Linked DNA regions of Homo sapiens: all the other regions are linked to region 1. Evidence: fine-mapped expression QTL. A gene starts in region 1. Each other region holds a variant in brackets. All regions are shown on one strand. Distances are from middle to middle.

The links.
Region 2: its variant is fine-mapped to the expression of ECM1 in atrial appendage (GTEx, PIP 0.95).
Region 3: its variant is fine-mapped to the expression of ECM1 in fibroblasts (GTEx, PIP above 0.99).

Annotation. Positions count from the first base shown.
Region 1 is chr1:150,506,903-150,509,660 of GRCh38, forward strand. It overlaps ECM1 (extracellular matrix protein 1), which reads left to right and starts at 1,207. Exons shown (of 10, transcript NM_004425.4): 1 at 1,207-1,377; 2 at 2,629-2,679. The coding sequence starts at 1,308. It overlaps TARS2 (threonyl-tRNA synthetase 2, mitochondrial), which reads left to right. Exons shown (of 18, transcript NM_025150.5): 18 at 14-700. The coding sequence ends at 162.
Region 2 is chr1:151,389,082-151,391,839 of GRCh38, forward strand. No RefSeq gene overlaps it. Among named protein-coding and RNA genes, the nearest start is that of PSMB4, 9.1 kb to the right of the region's middle. The variant C/T (reference allele first, on the strand shown) is at 1,035.
Region 3 is chr1:150,537,031-150,539,788 of GRCh38, forward strand. No RefSeq gene overlaps it. Among named protein-coding and RNA genes, the nearest start is that of ADAMTSL4, 11 kb to the right of the region's middle. The variant C/T (reference allele first, on the strand shown) is at 1,154.

The sequences.
Region 1 (2,758 bases):
CCTCTACCTGCAGTGGTTGGCCAGAAAGAGCAAAGTAAGAGAACAGTGAACATTCGGACTCGAGATAATCGTCGCCTTGGGGAGTGGGACTTGCCTGAGGCTGTGCAGCGACTGGTGGAGCTACAGAACACGAGGGTCCCAAATGCCGAAGAAATTTTCTGAGCCTTTGTACATAGATGAGGCAAAAACCTGCGAGTGCCATCAGCCTCCCTCACATGGGAGACCCCAACCCAGCTGACAATGTGGAGCCCCCAGAACTTCAGAACTGTGTGGAGGCACATGTCTGCTCTCCTGAAAAGAGACTTGGTTTGGGGACCCCACAAAAGGAGGGAAGCTGTAGCTGTTTGGATGTGAGGAGAATGAAACTACAAAAAAAAATAAATTGGGCCAGGCGCAGTGGCTCATGCCTGTAATCCCAGCACTCTGGGAGGCTGAGGCGGACGGATCATGAGGTCAGGAGATCAAGACCACCCTGGCTAACACGGTGAAACCCTGTCTCTACTAAAAATACAAAAAATTAGCCGGGCATGGTGGCACACGCCTGTAATCCCAGCTACTCAGGAGGCTGAGGCAGGAGAATCGCTTGAACCCGGGAGGTAGAGGTTGCAGTGAGCTGAGATTGCGCCACTGCACCCCCCTAGGCGACAGAGCGAGACTCTGTCTCTAAATAAATAAATAAATAAATAAATACAAACTGGAAGCTGCTGGTCATATGTCTTCATCTCTGACTCTGGAGAGGTGGGATAAAAGGATGTTCCACTTTGTCTCCCTCTTTTTTGTCCCAGAGAGTTAGGGAAATTGAAAAGGGACAGTCCAGACCTCACACTGGTAGGGGAGATCCCTTGGATAGGTTTCCTGCTCCCCGCTGTAAACTCCTTTGTGCCCTGTTTCCCCAACCCCAGTTCATGAGTTGGCAGATCCCCTCTCCACAGAAGGCAGCCTGTAGATGGAGAAACTGAGGCACAAACTAGGGGCTCAAACACCTCTTGCTCCTGGATTCTCTGAATCAGTTTCTCTTGAAGGTCATAAGAATGTTCTCCTCTAATCAGTCCCATTCTTCTCAATCCTCTGAGGAGGCTTCAGGGTGACTTTGGGAGGAGTGGCTTCCAGAGGAGGAGCAGCTGGGACTGAGTCATGGCAGGAAGCTGAGGAGGGCGGGAGATCACACCAGACAATTATAAAAGAAGAGCTGGTCCTGAAGCTCACAACCGTAACAGCCACCAGACAAGCTTCAGTGGCCGGCCCTTCACATCCAGACTTGCCTGAGAGGACCCACCTCTGAGTGTCCAGTGGTCAGTTGCCCCAGGATGGGGACCACAGCCAGAGCAGCCTTGGTCTTGACCTATTTGGCTGTTGCTTCTGCTGCCTCTGAGGGAGGTGAGTTGGGGGATCAGCACTTAGGAGGGGGTCTGGGCTTGCATGGCAGGGGTCTGGGTCCAGGCATCCCAGACGGCTCATCACTAGCAGAGTGATTCTCCGTTTGGCTTTCCTTTTCTGAGCAGGCCCAAAGTGGGCCTAGGCCAGTGGAGCCTTTAACCAAGGAGGCAGAGAGCAGGGGCACAGAAGGAGAGGGGTTCCTAGAAACTGCTGCCAAGAAACACAGAATCCCAGTCAAATAGACAACTGAGTGGGGGGTGGGTTCACAGAGTGAGGGTCTCCTGCTGATGAGGATGTAGGGAGGTGGCTGGTGGGAGAGGCAAGGGAGGGAAAAGGGGCCCCCAGGCTGCTCAAAACCGGATTGCTGGCCCAGCAAGCCTCGACTGACTCCCTGTCTGATTAGAGGAGTTGAGGGGTGTCCATCCACAGACCCACCCTCCATCCAGCACAAACACATTCTTTATCTGCTTTGATGCCTGAACAAAACAGGAACCCCTCAATGCTATGGGTGGAAACTAAGAAAAAAAGGAAAAGAAAAGGAAAAAAACCACCCAGGGCACTCCTGCAGGAAGCTGCTGAGGATGTCAGCAAATCTGTCCACTTCTCTGTGAAGCCCCATGCCATCATTCTTCCCAGCTCCTGGTCTTTTGTGTCTGCAGATCACCTACAAGTGACCCTTCCCTGTGCCTGTCCCAGTCCCCCAGGCCCTAAATTGAGACCTAAACTAAGGCGGAGCTGAGACTGGCTGAAGGGGAAGCACTCAACCTTCAGGAAGCCTCCTTAACCAAAGGCCTAAAGATGTTTCAAGGGCCTGGAGTAGGAGGGTGGGTGGAGGAGGTGGATTGGGTAGGCTCCAACCAGCTCAAGGTCCAGACTTTTTCCTCTGAAAGCTAGAGACGCATCCCAGCAGAGACTGGGGAGGACAACCCACAGCCCTGAGGGAAAGACTGGCAGAGGAAATGAGGGCCTCCCTCCCCAATCCCGTATGCCATACTCCCTTTAGGCCCAACCTCTGAGCCAGTAGAGGTGGAGCTATCAGACCGCCACAGGCTTTCTCAGAACCCAGCTGGTCATGTCTAGGTGTGTTGGGGCTGGGAGAGGATTAGGGGACACGGGGCAGGTGAATACAGAGGGGCATCTCGTGTCTTGCTTGTCTGTCCTACACTCTTGATCTCCACAGCCTCCCCATCCCTTGCTGAAGTCCAGGGAAGGCCCTCCCAGTGGCCCCTGACTTGCCCTTCTTCCCTCCAGGCTTCACGGCTACAGGACAGAGGCAGCTGAGGCCAGAGCACTTTCAAGAAGGTAAGAGTTTGGGGGAGCAGCATGGGATTGGGACTCCAGGAGGCACTGTGGGCTCTGATGTCTCCCCTCTTGCTTCTAG
Region 2 (2,758 bases), 880 kb after region 1:
TCCTGACCTCAGGTGATCTGCCCACCTCGGCCTACCAAAATACTGGAATTACAGGCATGAGCCACCACGCCCAGCCTTATTATTATTATTATTATTATTATTATTATTATTATTATTTTATTTTATTTTATTTTTTGAGACAAAGTCTCGCTGGGTAGCCCAGGCTGGAGTGCAGTGGTGCAATCTCGGCTCACTGCAACCTCCACCTTCTGGGTTCAAACGATTCTCCTGCCTCAGGCTCCCAAGTAGCTGGGACTACAGGCGCCCGCCACCACGCCTGGCTAATTTTTTTATTTTTTTATTTTTAGTAGAGACGGGGTTTCACTATGTTGGCCAGGGTGGTCTTGAACTCCTGACATCGTGATCTGTCCGCCTCAGCCTCCCAAAGTGCTGGGATTACAGGCGTGAGCCACCGCGCTCGGCCGTACCTGTCCTTCTTGGGAAGGCTTTCCAGGTATTTGAAGGGACTTAGGTGTTGTCATCTAAGCTGTCTCTGCATTAGGCGGCACCCCAAGCTCAGTAATGCTGTGGTCCCTGCAGCCTCATAGAGTACCACCTTGGTGGTCCTGAATAAGAGCCAAAATAATTCTCTGGATTACCAGGTAGAAATTCCTATTCTCTTCTTGTATTTTCTTCCAAACAAACAGAGTCTCTCTCAAAGTCTCAAAGCCATTTGTAGTGGCATAAGGATCTTGCCTGTGAATAGCCACTGCTCTCCAGCTTGGGCAACATAGTGAGAACTCATCTGTCAAAAAAAAATTTTATAGTAATGCTGAAATCTAAAATCGTATTATAACCTCTCTCAACCCACCATTTCCCTTTCCAGGGACCAAGTTACTCCCTTCCTCCCCTTTCCCCAGGAAAGCCTACTTCCTGCTTTAATTCCATTATAATTGGCAGATTTCATTTATTTTTATTTATTTATTTTGAGACGGAGTCTCGCTCTGTCGCCCAGGCTGGAGTGCAGTGGCGTGATCTCGGCTCACTGCAAGCTCCGCCTCCCGTGTTCTCGCCATTCTCCTGCCCCAGCCTCC[C/T]GAGTAGCTGGGATTACAGGCGCCCGCCACCACGCCGACTAATTTTTTGTATTTTTAGTAGAGACGGGGTTTCACCGTGTTAGCCAGGATGGTCTCGATCTCCTGACCTCGTGATCCGCCCGCCTTGGCCTCCCAAAGTGCCGGGATTACAAGCATGAGCCACCACGCCCGGCCGCTTTCATTTATTTTTTATTGCTGGAAAATGTTTCAGAAGTTCCTTACTTTTTTCCCAGAGTGTCATTATAAGTAAGACTATATAAAACTCATTTTCAACTGCCACTATGACTCAATTTTACACACATGCGCGCGCATCCCCCACCCTCGCCTGCCCACATTCTTAGTGTTGTTTTGTGTGTTTAAATTAGCGCAGATGGTACCATATCATATATGTCATTCTGTGGTTTATCTGGTTCACTCAACAATGTGTTTGATATGTTAGGTTCTTTCCTTTAAGCTACCTTGTAGTATTCTTTTGTAATAATATACTGCATTTTATCTACTCCCCCTTGATGAGCATTTAGACTGTTTCTATTTTTTTGCTATTACGAACAATGCTCTGATGAACATTCTTGAATGTTTCCTAACGTGTACATGTGAGTGTCTCTATGTTATAGGTTTATTGGGTAATTTAGCATGTGTAATTTTCAGTTTTATTAGGTGCTATCAAGTTTTTTTTTTTTTTTTTTTTTGAGACAGAGTTTCACTCTTGTTCCCCAGGCCGGAGTGCAATGGCACAATCTTGGCTCACCGCAACCTCCACCTCCCGGGTTCAAGTGATTCTCCTGCCTCAGCCTCCTAAGTAGCTGGGATTACAGGCACCCGCCATCATACCCGGCTAATTTTTGTATTTTTAGTACAGACGAGATTTCATCATGTTGGCCAGGCTGGTTTCGAACTCATGACCTCAGGTGATCCACCCGCCTTGGCCTCCCAAAGTGCTGAGATTATAGGCATGAGCCACTGCACAAAGCCTTAAACATTGCCTCAAACCTCAGTGACCTTTGCCTAGAGGTGTAAACCTTGACTCTAATCTACCCCGACTAAAGGACTATGACTCTGGAGCATAATCTTGGCAGGAAGCATGTTAGAACTGCCCTTCTCATTGCCAGTCTCTGATTTTATTTGTTTGATTTAGCACAGATTAGGGGAAAATCTGAATATCCATAATCAGACAGGTTCACTGGTCTGAGAAGGGTGTGGAGGTTGAGCACAAAATTTCCTCTCCCTATTCCAGAACTTGGGAGTTACACAGTTCAGTGAACCCTTGAAGGTAGAACATCAGAGGAACAGAGGGTACAGAACTGAATGTGTAAACTGTTGATCTTCTGGGCATTCCTGGTTGTGAGCTTTCCCAGTATGAGAGGTGCTCAGAACGGGGTGGGCCAGGCCTAGTGGTTCAGGGGAATAACGTGTTCTGAATGTGTGTTTATTCTTTTCAACTTTATTATTTTTATTTATTTATTTATTTGTTTATTTGTTTTGAGATGGAGTCTCACTCTGTTGCCAGGCTGGAGTGCAGTGGCGTGATCTCTGCCCACTGCAACCTCCACCTCCCTGGTTCCAGCGATTCTCCTGCCTCAGCCTCCCGAGTTGCTGGGATTACAAGCGCCCACCACCATGCCCAGCTAATTTTTCTATTTTTAATAGAGATGGGTTTTCACCATATTGGCCAGGATGGTCTCGATCTCTTGACCTCATGATCTGCCCGCCTCGGCCTCCCAAAG
Region 3 (2,758 bases), 30 kb after region 1:
TCTCTCCCTGAGATGTGAGCCTGGCTACATCAAGGCCAGAGCAATGAGAGGCAGTGGCCCTTGCCCCAGCTTTTCCCCAATGAGGAAGCACCATCATCACCAACACCATCTTGCCACGATAGCACTGGAGAGCCTGCAGGTGAAGGTGGGGATCCCCTAAATTCACAATTAAGTTCCTTTACCCCAGGGAAATGGGCACTGGAAACAGAAACAGGCTGTTATTGAGAAATCAATTAACATATGGTCCCTGCATACTTCTGTTTGAGGGCCCCAATTAGCTCATACCTGGTTCACAGGCAAACTTTCCAACAAACGGGGCAGATCTCATACTGGGTGTGTATAAGAGCCCCTGTGGAGGCTGGGCACAGTGACTCACAACTGTAATCCCAGCACTTTGGGAGGCCAAGGCGGGAGGATCGCTTGAGCCCAGGAGATCCAGGCTGCAGTGAGCTGAGGTCATGCCACCGCACTCCAGCCTGGGTGACAGACACCCTGTCCCAAAAAATAAAGAAGAACCCCTGTGGAGCTCATGAACAGGACCACCCAGAGGAGGGGACCAGGCACCTTTATTTTCATAACCTCCCAGGCAATTGTTAGGCACACTAAAGTGAGAGACTCTTTGGGGAGGATAGAGCTGCCCAGAGGGTTTGGGCTGGGAGAGCGGTGGGGCAGGGGCCCTCCCAAGAGGCAACAGGCTCCTCAGAGTGAGACTGAGCTGTCTCTCCACAGAGGGCAGGGGAGGGAGGGTGGCCCTGGGCAGAGGGGCTGAAGCTGGAGAGGCAGTGGAGGCCGGAGGGCACAGGCTTTGCGGCTGAGCAAGGGGCCAGGGCCAGATCCTGAAGCTGACGGGACAGGGGGCGCTGTGAGCAGGGACGGGAGGCCTTTCTGAGGCAGGAAAATCACTTGAACCCAGGAGGCGGAGGTTGCAGTGAGCTGAGATCATGCCACCACACTCCAGCCTGGGCAACAGAGCGAGACTCCATCTCAAAAAAAAAAAAACAAAACAAAAAGCAGATACACACCTTCCCGTCCACCCTTTGTCCACTGAGATGAGCTGGGCCTGTGGTGGGAGGGGTGAGCACCTCCTGCCTCAACTTGCATTTCCTTCCCAGCAGGCCCGGGCTCTCCTGCCTCTGACTTCAAGTCCTTGGTA[C/T]GTATGAAATTCCTGCCTCTCCTCTGGCCGCCCTGCCTGCCTCCCTGGCTGCAGTTACAGTTTTGTCCCTTGTTCCTACCCTTTTATGTCTGCCTTTCTCAGGCCTTCAGCCCAATGTGTCAAGATTAATTTGATACCAAATTGGCTTTCTCTGGAAATTCAAGGAAAACTTCTAGGCACAAGAACAAGATTCCTTTGGGGAAAATGCTCATGGCCCCTTCCTCAAGGCAGTCCTGGGGTTGGATCCTTGACCCGACCCAGGCCGGGATAGCACCCTGGAGGGGGAGGCCCTGTCTGGAGGGAAACAGCTCGCTCAGGGTCTTGCACCCGCCCGCCCCACCTCCAACCCTGTGCCCTGCTCTTGACAGAGAGAGACAGGCCCTCCTCAAAGTATGACTAGGGCCCTTCTCACCCCCAGAGCTCACCTCTCTGTAAGGCTCTGCTCTGCTGGAAAAAAATTCTTCATTTACTTTTGGACTGGGGCGACAGATTGCAATTTGGGGCCATCATGGTTGGATGTTTATGTTCTCGGAGGAGCCTCTTTGGGGAAGGAAACTGGGTTTCTCTCACCTTCCTTATTTGAGACAAAATGTACTATTTCTTGCTCTTAATTCAGCATCTACAATTGTCCTGGGAATTGGGTGCAGTGCCATGGGGTCAGGACAGTAGTGTGATTCCAGACTCCAGAACAAAACAATAGGATGCTCTGTTTTCTCAAAATGCCTTGAGTCCTCAGGCCTGGCCCCCCAACCACTAGGCAGCGCCTATCCTTCCTCTGTGGTCTCACCCCTCTTCCCAGATCATTTGCCCTCACAACCACCTCACATTCTGTCCAGAACCCCCAAGCACAAGGAGCCTGCCAAGCTGGGAAGTCATCACAGAACTCAGTTCTACTGGCATATCTGCCACCAGAATTCGCAGTAAAGAGGACAGGTTCTGGTTGGGTGCATGGCTCATGCCTGTAATCCCAACACTTTGGGAGGCCAAGGTGAGAGGATCATTTGAGCCCAGTTCAAGACCAGCCTGCACAACATAGTAAGACTCCGTCTCTACAAAAATTTTTTTTAATTAGCCGGACGTGGTTGTGCACACCTTATAGTCCCAGCTACTCAGAAAGCTGAGGCAGAAGGATTGCATGAGCCCCAGAGTTTGAGGCTGCAGTGAGCTATGATCACACCACTGCACTCCAGCCTGGGCAACAGAGTGAGATCCTGTCTCAAAAAAAAAAAAAAAAATGAGAAAGAAGAAAGAAAGAAAGGGCCAGGCATGATGGCTCATGCCTGTAATCCCAACACTTTGGGAGGCTGAGGTGGGTGGATCACTTGAGGTCAGGAGTTCAAGACTAGCCTGACCAAAATGGTGAAACCCCGTCTCTACTAAAACTACAAAAATTAGCTGGATGTGGTGGCAGGCTCCTGTAATCCCAGCTACTACGAGGCAGGAGAATGGCTTGAACCTGGGAGGTGGAGGTTGCAGTGAGCTGAGACTGCACCACTGCACTCCAGCCTGGGCGACAGAGCAAGGCTCCATCAAGAAAGAAGGAAAGAAGAAAGAGAGAGAGAGAAAGAAAAGAAAAGAAAGAGAGGAAGGAAAGAAGGAAGGGAG